3 linked regions of the Homo sapiens genome follow. The protein of the gene in region 1 interacts with the protein of each later gene in a pairwise test. Each region holds a gene or a part of one and is shown in the gene's direction. Other genes may lie near its edges.

Evidence for each region.
Region 2: the proteins of SLC35B4 (region 1) and STOM interact in binary tests that used the Homo sapiens proteins (3 or more experiments, as listed by UniProt).
Region 3: the proteins of SLC35B4 (region 1) and CISD2 interact in binary tests that used the Homo sapiens proteins (3 or more experiments, as listed by UniProt).

Annotation. Positions count from the first base shown.
Region 1 is NC_000007.14:134,303,256-134,307,010, reverse strand, and holds part of SLC35B4 (nucleotide sugar transporter SLC35B4), read left to right. Parts: intron 1-236; coding exon 237-339; intron 340-2,156; coding exon 2,157-2,206; intron 2,207-3,755. UniProt on the Homo sapiens protein: Antiporter that transports nucleotide sugars across the endoplasmic reticulum (ER) membrane in exchange for another nucleotide sugar.
Region 2 is NC_000009.12:121,356,616-121,360,370, reverse strand, and holds part of STOM (stomatin), read left to right. Parts: intron 1-3,755. UniProt on the Homo sapiens protein: Regulates ion channel activity and transmembrane ion transport. Regulates ASIC2 and ASIC3 channel activity.
Region 3 is NC_000004.12:102,878,843-102,882,597, forward strand, and holds part of CISD2 (CDGSH iron-sulfur domain-containing protein 2), read left to right. Parts: intron 1-3,755. UniProt on the Homo sapiens protein: Regulator of autophagy that contributes to antagonize BECN1-mediated cellular autophagy at the endoplasmic reticulum.

The DNA of each region.
Region 1 (3,755 bases):
ATTTTTAAATAGTGTTTCTTTAAATGTATTTTATAACTTAGATTTTCCCATGTTAGTCTGGCTTTGTGAAGCGTTTTGATATGTACTTAGTAGTTGACATGGCATAATAGTGATGCAATCTTGCAACGCAGAGGAAACAGGCAAAATGCCTTTTTAGCCAAAAATATATATTTCCTATACTTGATTTTCTTGAAATCCTAGATTCTGTTTGATGAGCTGTTCTGTCTGCATTTCAGGTACTATGCCATAATGGTGACCATGTTCTTCACCGTGAGCGTGGTGAACAACTATGCCCTGAATCTCAACATTGCCATGCCCCTGCATATGATATTTAGATCCGTAAGTGCTGCCGGATCACGTGTATATGTTCCTCTGAAAAGTATAGTTAAGTAGATCGATTGAATATATGGCAGAACTAGAAGGTTCTTGTAGTAAGTGGTCTTGGGTAGAAGAATAGGTTTGTGAATGCGTGAGCAAGGGTGGCTTTCATCTGAGAAGGCAAAAAGAGAAATCTCAAAGTGGATGGTTTACTTTTATTCTTCTGAGGTCTAATGAGTGATTAATAAAAAGAAAATTAAATTTTCCCTAGGAAACAGATTTTACCTTCATTTTCCCTCATCTCTTTGATTTTATATTCAAACATGCTATTAATGTTATTTAACTTATTTCTTATCTCTTCTTCTTTCATAAAAGTACATTTACTTCTAGAACATGAAAGAGATACTTGTCTTTTCTGATTTTTTTTTTTTTTTTTAAGCAGAGACTTGAGATAATAAAGGGAAATTCTTGATGAAGGTAGGGTTTCTCCCAAAGCACTCCAGGCAAAAAAGGCTGATAATTGTGGTGATAACATTTCCATGTGGTCTGAGATTTTTGTGAGATTGTACTGTTCCTGAAGGGAGTTTCCAAAGCAATTATAATAAGGTGACCTTCAAAGCATTGAAAACATAGTGGACTTTCAATAAACACCTGTTGATTGATTGTCACCTTTTTAGAGAACAGAGAGATCCTTGCATGACTTTTTCCATTAAAACTGGTCAGGGGCTGTGCACAGTGGTTCAGGCCTGTAATCCCAGCACTTTGGGAGGCTGAGGTGGGTGGATCACCTGAGGTTGGGAGTTCGAGACCAGCCTGATCAACATGGGAAACCCCATCTCTACTAAAAATACAAAATTAGCTGGGCGTGGTGGCACACGCCTGTAATCCCAGCTACTCGGGAGGCTGAGGCAGGAGAATCGCTTGAACCTGGGAGGCAGAGGTTGTGGTGAGCCAAGATCGCAACATTGCACTCCAGCCTGGGCAACAAGAGCAAAACTCCGTCTGAGGGAAGAAAAAACTGGTCGGGGGTAGAAGGTGCAGGTAATGGGGAGAAACTTATTAAAAGCTCTTATAAATTAGGTGATGGAAATTTTGACAAAAATAAGTCTGTGATATCATTTATTCGTGCTAGCCCTGGCTTCAGCACTGAGCAATTACAGTTGACCCTTGAACAACATGGGTTTAAACCACGTGGGTCCACAAATATGCAAATTTTTTTCAAACAAATATGAAAATACAGTATTCACGGGATGCAAAACATGCCTATAAGGAGGGCTGATAATGACTATATTGAGAATTGATCCTTTTTATTCTCATTGTCATCTTTAAAAGGTTTTTTAAATATATATATATATACGTATATTTTTGGAGACGGAGTTTCGCTCTTGTTGCCCAGGCTGGAGGTGCAATGGCGCGATCTTGGCTCACTGCAACCTCCACTTCCCGGGTTCAAGGGATTCTCCTGCCTCAGCCTCCCAAGTAGCTGGAATTACAGGCAACTGCCACCACGCCCAGCTAAGTTTCGTATTTTTTAGTAGAGACAGAGTTTCACCATGTTGGCCGGGCTGGTCTCAAGCTCCTGACCTCAGGTGATCCGCCCACCTCGGCTTCTCAAAGTGCTGGGATTACGGGCGTGAGCCACCGCGCCCGGCCATCATAGTAGATTTTTATGGTTTATACTTTTGCCATCATAAGAACAACTAAATCTTTACTAATTATTCATCCTAGCTTCCTTCATTCCATGTTTTTTCCCCTTGCCCATGTTCCTATTCTCTCGAATTACGTTGTTTTTTTCCTAGTGCACTAAACCTCTCTGTTACTGTTGTCTCCTTTTGCAGGGTTCTCTAATTGCCAACATGATTCTAGGAATTATCATTTTGAAGAAAAGGTAAACAATACACTTCTGTATTTTGTGTATGGAAATGATACCCTGAGCCCCTGTCCATAAGCTAGTCACCTGGATTCCTTGTCCCAAAATAGTGATAAGTTTGCTTCTGGCCATCTACCTCTTTTCTTAGTTCTTTACCAGTGAGGCCCAATCATGCAATGTCCTGAAGCAGCTGATCAGGTAAGAGGCCACACCTGTGGTGTCTCTGTGTCGAACTGAATAGCTCTTGGCATCACTGAATTTTAGTGTCATACTAACCTGCGAAGCCAACTTACAAAGATGATAGAGAGGTTCACTGTGCAGTATGGTCACCACTAGCCACGTGTGACTATTTACATTTTTCAAAATTAAAGAAAATTAAATATTTAGTGTCTCAGTTTCATTAGTCACGTACATTTTTTTTTCTTTTTTTTGGAGACGAGGTCTCACTCTGTCATCCTGGTTGGAATACAGTGGTGTGATCTCGGCTCACTGCAGCCTCCACCTCCCAGGTTCAAGTGATCCTCCCACCTCAGCCTCCCAAGTAGCTGGGACCAAAGGCATGTGCCACCATGCCCGGCTAACTTTTTTGTATTTTTGGTAGAGATTGGGTTTCGCCATGTTGTCCCCGCTGGTCTCAAACTCCTAGTCACATTTTCAGTGCTCAGTAGACTCACAGAGCTGGTAGTGACCACGTTGGAGAGCCCAGATGTGGAACATTTCTAACATCTCAGAAATTCCATGGGATACTTCTGCCCTAGAAGATGCTTATCAGTACAGCATAGCAAACTAAGGAATGGTTGTACATATTAAAAAGGAAATTCCTAAAAAGGCCCAAATAGCCAAGAAGATGGAATGAAAGGTTCAGGACTGTTCTTTGTGACCATCACCAATGGCTCTCTTTGGGACAGGAGCAGGGGGGACAGGAGCAGGAAATACCAGAAGTACCTGGGATGCTTTTTCAAAGTTTTTGTCTGTCACCTTCATTCTGAGGTTCACCCCTCACTCCTAAGGAGGAAGGATGTTAGCAAGAGACAACACATACAGTTTGGGAAATTTATCAGGGAAAGTTCACTGTTAAGACCAAAATTATACAAGTTGATGGCAGCGTTTCAATGTATTTGATATCCAGCCCCAAGCTCTCTATACATGCTTGGAAAGTAGCTGTAAATTCAGAATGTGAGAACCTAGAGTTTTTAAGTATTAAGGGCTGTGTCATAAAAAGAACAATTGTCCTGTCCTACTAGGCTTCATATCATGGACCGTTTATCTCCTGAGGCTTATGAATTCCCTGAAAAGTACTACTGTAGTTGATTTCTTTCTTCTTGGTTCTCTGCATTTAAACATATATATATATATACATATGATGGTCAGGTTTATTACATTTGAAGTGATCATCATGCTTCTTATAGTGTGGAATTCGCCTTGGGACAGGCCTGTGCTCTTTCCCAACCTTTGATTCTGGCTCATGACAAGGATACAAAAGAACATGTTATAAGAGAAATTGTATTCTCCTGATAGTGCCCCAAAATGTTACGGGTCTTTCTCAAGCATCTGTTGCCCTTAAGAA
Region 2 (3,755 bases), on another chromosome or scaffold:
CACAAGAAATTAAAATATTAGATTAAAAAATAATAAAAGATTAAAATCCTACATTGGAAGGTCAATTAAAAATAAATAAAAAATAAAAGATTAGACAAGATATAAGTGCCATAAGATAATTTTCAAAAAATGCTATCGAGATTCAAAGGAAAGAAAAAGACATATCTAGCTAGAAAACTTGCTGAGAAGTATTTTATTTTATATCTATTCTACTATGCAGGATACTGTGCTAGACATTGAGAATATAAAAGTGAATAAGCAACATCCCTGCCCTCAGGGAGTTTTTACTCTAGTATGTTATGGGAGACTTGGACAGTATTTGAAAAGGCACCAAATGCTGTCAGATAAATAAGTATTTGTGGTCAGTCTGTCCTTGTTTGGAATTCATTTCACCCTGGAAACCTAGACCTGTGTCTGTCACAGAGCCTTGAAACTATCTTTTGCTATAAATAGGCATGGCTGGCATTAAGAGGACTTCCTCTGTAAAAATATCAGATTTCATTCTCACAACTCCAGCCATGCTTTTCAGTTTGGATACTGTCTTGAGAAAGTGCTCAACCACGAAAACATTCTTAATGAGGATTTTTTTTATTGAGGGGTGAATTTGGAACACGGGCTTTGGAGTAAGATGACCCATATTTGAGTCCCAGGTCTTCCATTGTGTGACTTTGGGAAAGTTAAATGTTGCTTTAGGTAACTCATTTGTAAAAGGGATTTAAAAATACCCTCACAGGGCTGTTGTAAGAGTTAAATGAGATACATGTCTAAAGTAACTTTAAAAAATGCCTGGGGTATACACAACCCCTCAAAACAGCCACTGTTGCTATGATCAGTCATGGTAATACTAGATAAAGCTTTCTTCACAAACAGTACTATGGCCCTGCTTTGAATATTCTCTCAATGAATATGTCTGTACCCCCTAAATTATAACTTAGAAACCTCCAGGATTACTTTAGATCATTTTATTTAAGTATACATGAAGACATTTACCTCACACTATAACACAGGATCAGAAAACTACCAAGTCACATACAACCCAAGTACTCACTATATTTCTGATTTTTCATCCTATGTTTTAGAGCACTTGACCTGGGTGCCAACATGTGTCTCTCTTCTCCCATGTTCCCAGCCTGAACACTCTGCTTATTTCTTGGCCTCCTATTTATTCCAAGCCCCATCTTACTGCCATTTTGCCCTTTCTTCTGAGCAGTAACATGTGCCTGGCATACCTTTTCTCCCCTCTGTCATTAAAATAGCTCCTGAAAATACAGCAGAAGCCTTCCAAGTGGTTGATAAGAAAACCTACTATATCCCTTGGCCTTCTCAGTCCCTATGTCCTCTACAGAAAGCAAAAGCAAACTAAAAATGAGGATGACACTTGATACAGAAAATAGGAACACAACACTGAGGTGATGGGAGTTCCCAGGATGATAGTGAAAGCAATTGCAGAATGATAGCCGTGCACACCAGATGAAGGAAGTCCACACAAGGCTCTGAGAGAGAATTCTTCCAGAAGATAAAATTGATAGTATACCTGACCTCTTTGAGAGGAAATTTAGGCAATTGATTTAAGGTTGGATCAATAAGTACGTTGAAAACCGAACAAAGGGAAAAAATAAGACAGTAATTCCAGAAAAAACAAAAATAGTACAGGAAGAGAAAACCAGTGATACCTCACTACTTGGCTTAGCTTTAAATTGCACTTACAAATTCATAATATAAAATCTCATATTGATCTAAATGAAGTTATGATGTAATTATATTGGAAAGCTGGGTATAAGTATGTGGTGGGGGTAACGGGGAGGAAAGAGAACTAAATCTTTTTCTGTAGTAGAAAGTTAATAGTCCTCAAAACTGAAAAAGCAAGAAGTAACAAAACAAGCATTTCCTTCCTTCCTTCCTTCCTTTTCTTTCTTTCTTTCTTTCCTCACTTTGTTGTCCAGGCTGGGGTACATCACAGCTCACTGCAGCCACGAACCCCCAGGCTCAAGCAATCCCCCTATTTCAGTCTCCTCAGTAGCTGGGACTACAGGTGTGTGCCACCACACACAGCTAATTTTTTTTAAGAAGTTTCAAGTAGAGATGGGAGTCTCACTAGGTTGCCCATGCTGGTCTCAAACTCCTGAGCTCAAGCAATCCTCCCATCTCGGCCTCCCAAAGTGCTGGGATTACAGGCGTGAGCCACCATGCCTGGCAGAAGCATATTATTATTATTATTTTTTTTTTTTTTAAAGTAGAGACAGAGTCTCCCTATGTTGCCCAAGCTAGTCTCAAACCCCTGGGCTCAAGGGATCCTCCCTCCTCAGCCTCCCAAAGTGCTGGGATTACAGGTGTGACCCCTGCACCCAGCTGCAAAGCGTATTATTTAGAAATATGGAGGTAGATATCAAAATGGTCAAAATAGCAAATGTTTTTGAGGAGGAGGAAATTGGAAGAGGTGAGCATGGGAATGCCCTTTTTTTGTACTAATCATATAGAATGGTTTGACTTTTTAAACTTTATGCAAGTGTAACTTCAAAAACACAAATGCATAACCACGAAGGCCAAAAAAGAAGGTGAAAGAGAATAGCTACAGGGAAGAAAAATAGGTTACACATTTTATTTATTTATTTATTTTTAAAAATATGATTTAAGGCCGGGCGCAGTGGCTTATGCCTGTAATCCCAGCACTTTGGAAGGCCATGGTGGGCAGATCACTTGACGTCAGGAGTTCGAGGCCAGCCTGGCCAACATGGTGAAACCCCATCTGTACTAAATACAAAAAGTAGCCGGGTGTGGTGGCAGGTGGCTGTAATCCCAGCTACTCAGGAGATTGAGACGGGAGAATCGCATGATCCCAGGAGGTGGAGGTTGCAGTGAGGTGAGACTGTGCTGCTGCACTCCAGCCTGGGCAACAGAGCAAGACTCTGTCTCAAAAAATAAATAAATAAATATATATATATATATCATTTAAAAATATGGTGTGTACACTAGGAAAATTTTCAAAGAATATACCAAAATACCTCTGAATTTAAAGTAATTTTTCCCTCCTTTGTTATACTTCTGTGAATTTTTTGCATTATTACCTTTGTAATCAGACGGAAAAGCTGTTGCATATTACAGGAACAGGAAACAATTAGAAATGTGAGAGGAAAGCCGTGTACAAAGATGTTCACTACAACACTGTTTATAGCACTAAGAAATCAAACAACCTGTGTAATCAGGAAGTGGGCAATAAATGATGCTGCATAAACCTAGTGAAATATTTTACAGGTGTAATTTTTAAAAAGAGGCTCTAAACAACTTTATACTCATATCATATGGTTTTCACCTTTATTCGTACTGTACTCCTAGCTAAAATGCTCTAATGCCTTTTCCCTCTTTCCTTTTTCTTTTCTTTTCTTTTCTTTTGACAGATTCTTCCTCTGTTGCCCAGGCTGGAGTGCAGTGGTACAATCTTGGCTCACTGCAACCTCCACCTCCTGGGTTCATGCAATTCTCCTGCCTCAGCCTTCCCAGTAGCTGGGATTACAGGCACTCACCACAACGCCTAGCTAATTTTTGTATTTTTAGTAGAGACGGGGTTTTATCATGTTGATCAGGCTGGTCTTGAACTCTTGACCTCAAGTGATCCACCTGTCTCGGCCTCCCAAAGTGCTGGGATTACAGGCGTGAGCCACGACGCCCAGCCTCCACTTTCTTTTCGTCGATATTTTCTTACTATTACATCCTTCAGGAAACCCTCTGACAGCCACCTGAATCACCTCCCCGCCCCA
Region 3 (3,755 bases), on another chromosome or scaffold:
CTGTTGTAGCAATTTACTGTATTAGCTTTCACACTGCTATAAAAGAAATAAAAACATAAAATAAAAATACTACCCCAAACTGGGTAATTTATAAAAGAAATAAGTTTAATTGACTCACAGTTACGCATGACTAGGGAGGCCTCAGGAAACTTACAATTATGGTGGAAGGGGCACCTTTTTCACGAGGCAGGAGAGAAGAGTGAAGAGCAAAGCAGGAAGAGCCCATTTTAAAACCAGATCTCATGAGAACTCACTATCAGGAGAACAGCATGGGGGAGATTGCCTTGATGATTTAATCACCAACCACCAGGTTCCTCCCTTGACGTGGGGATTATGGGATTACAATTTGAGATGAGATTTGGATGGGGACACAGAGCCAAACCATATTAGTAGATACTTAATAATTATATAGTAAATATTTAATTTTTATAGTAATAATTATATAGTAAAAATTTGTTTAACAATGAGAAATTGATTTATTCTTTCAGAAAATGTTTAGTAAGCACTTAATAAAAATCAGAAGGGGGGGATTGATTGGGAAAGTACTACAAGAGCAAACTTTCTGGGGCAATGGAAATGTATTTTGTCTTAGGTGGTGTTTATAGGTCCATATAGTTACAAAACTCATCAAACTGAGCGCTTCACAAACACAAAGCTTGGCCAGGTGCGGTGGCTAATGCCTGTAATCTCAGCACTTTGGGAGGCTGAGGCAGGCAGATGGGAGTTTGAGACCAGCCTGGCCAACATGGTGAAACCCCATCTCTACTAAAAATATAAAAATTAGCAGGGCGTTTTGGCAGGCACCTGTAATCCTAGTGACTCAGAAGGCTGAGGCAGGAGAATCGCTTGAACCCGGGAGGCAGAGGTTGCAGTGAGCCAAGATCATGCCACTGCACTCCAGCTTGGGCGACAGAGCGAGACTCCATCTCAAAAACAAACAAACAAAAAGCACAAAGCTCAATAAACTGAACTGTAAATTAAACACTTCAAACAAAAGTAAGTTAAATAAATTGAGCCAGACGTTATATAGACACTGGGGACACAGATGATCAGACAAATAAGGTCCCTGCCCTTGTATCTCTCTTTTTCTTTTATTTTTTATTTTTTTTATTTTTTTGAGATAGAGTCTCTTCTCTGTCTCCCAGGCTGGAGTGCAGTGGTGAGATCTTACCTCACTGCCACCTCCACTTCCGGGATTTAAGTGATTCTCCTGCCTCAGCCTCCTGAGTAGCTGGGATTACAGGCGTGTGCCACCATGCCCAGCTAATTTTCTGTATTTTTAGTAGAGTTGGGATTTCACCATGTTGGCCAGGCTGGTCACGAACTCCTGACCTCAAGTGATCTGCCCACCTCAGCCTCCCTTAGTGCTGGAATTACAGGCGTAAGCCACCACGCCCAGCCCCCTTGTATCTCTTATATTGTGAGTGGGGAACATGATAGGTAGATGCAGCCATTAAAATTTATGTTTCCAACTGATATTAAGGAGTTGGGGAAATAATATAATAATCTGACATACCATTAAGTGAAAAATGCAATATAGCCTTATTTTTTAAGCATTTACAGCCTATGTATTTACATACCAAAAAAGAGATACATTTACCAAATAAATACATAAATGTTATTTTTTATAATCCTAAGACAAAAATAAATAATATGCTGAATAAAATACATTATTTTATACAAAAATTTGCTTGGTGTGGTGGCGCACGTCCATAATCCCAGCTATTTGGGTGGCGGAGGCACAAGAATCACTTGAACCTGGGAGGCAGAGGTTGCAGTGAGCCAAGATCATGCCACTGCACATCAGCCTGGGTGACAGAGTGAGACTATCTCATTAAAAAAAAAATATATTTTAAATTATTTTATTTGGTCAGGCACGGTGGCTCACGCCTGTAATCCCAGCACTTTGAGAGGCCAAGGTGGGTGGATCACCTGAGGTCAGGAGCTTGAGACCAACCTGACCAACACGGTGAAACCCCATCTCTACTAAAATACAAAAATTAGCTGGGTGTGGTGGCGTGCGCCTATAATCCCAGCTACTCGGGAGGTCACTGAGGCACGAGAATCGCTTGAACCCGGGCAGTGGAGATTGCAGTGAGCTAACACGACACACACTCCAGCCTGGGAAACAGAGCGAGACGCTGTCTCAAAAAAAAAAAAAAAAAATTTTTTTTGCACATTATTTACAGTTAGTAATATTTTCCTTTCAAAGTATCTAAAATATCTGTAATAGCTGAACATATATCAAACAGATCTATAGAGACTAGCACATGTAAAATTTTTTTTAAGTTTCTTGTTTGATTCTTCTGTATTTTATCTTTCTTCATATAAAATCAGCCTTAATTGACAGAGAAATATTCTATGTACTCATTCATATGTGGGAACTAAAAAAGTTGATCTCATGGAGATAGTCAAATGGTAGTTACCAGAGGCCAGGAAGGGTAGGGAGGGAGAGAATGAAGAGAGGTTGGTTAATGGGCACTATAGTACGGTTATATAGAAAAAGTTCTAGTATTCAATAGCATAATAGGGTGACTATTGTTATCAGTAATTTTAGTGTATATTTCAAAATAGGAGAGAAAATTTGGAATGTTCTCAATATAAATAAATGATAAATGAGGTGACGAATATCCCAGTTACACTGAGTTGATCATTGCACATCATATGCATGTATGCATGTAGCAAAATATCACTTGTACCCCATAAATATGTACAGTTATTATGTATCAGTACAAAAACAGCCTGAATAAATGTACTTACAGTCATTTGAATTGAGCTTTTCAAGCTGTATTGCTTTCATGTATAAAGTTTTTCAGTAGTTAAATTGTAGTTGGTTATCTTTAAAAAGTAGATTATGTTAAGACTTTGGTAAGTTATTACTTTGTTGTAGGAGGTAATAGTACCTCTCATCACTGTATTTTTAAGCATAGTGTTTTACCAAGGAATTAAGTGTTCAAAAGAATATTTTCTGAAGTGGATTTTAAAACAGTAGTAATACCATTTGTTCTTGAGGTTTGTGGGTTAAGATAGGAAATGCTATATTTAAGAGTCTAACATTAAGGTTTTCAACCAGGCATGGTGGCTCACACCTGTAATCCCAGGACTTCGTGGGGCTGAGGCAGGCGGATCACTTGAGGTCAGGAGTTTGAGACCAGCCTGGCCAACATGGTGAAACCCCATCTCTACTAAAAATACAAAAATTAGCCAGACGTTGTGGTGTGCTCCTGCAGTTTTAGTTACTTGGGAGGCTGAGGCAGGAGGATAGCTTGTGCCCGGGAGGTGGAGGTGGTAGTGACCAAGAGCACACCACTGCACTCCAGCCTGGGCAATGGAAGTGAAACCCTGTCTCAAAAATAAATAAATAAGATTTTCATCTTTGCGTTCCCATTCACTCGCTTTTTGATAAATTTAAGCTCTTATGACTTCTAAAATATTGTAATATGTACAATAATACTTAATGTTATTCTACATTGAACAAACATTTAATGACTGCTATTTCGAGTTACATACTGGATGCTGGGGCCAATTGCAAGCTAAGATAATTAGTCAGATAAAACAGAAGGAACTCCATATGCAAAGAACTCAAAAAGGCTGCTTACTAGACAGTAGCTTTCGCTGGCCTCAGGTACATGAAGAGACCATGTTTGTGGAAGTTGAAGCTGGAAAGGTAGCCTTGCCATTCTTTGGAGATGGCACCTTATAGAGCCAATGATCTATAGTAGCATTGTCCAGTAAAACTTTGTGGTAATGGAAAT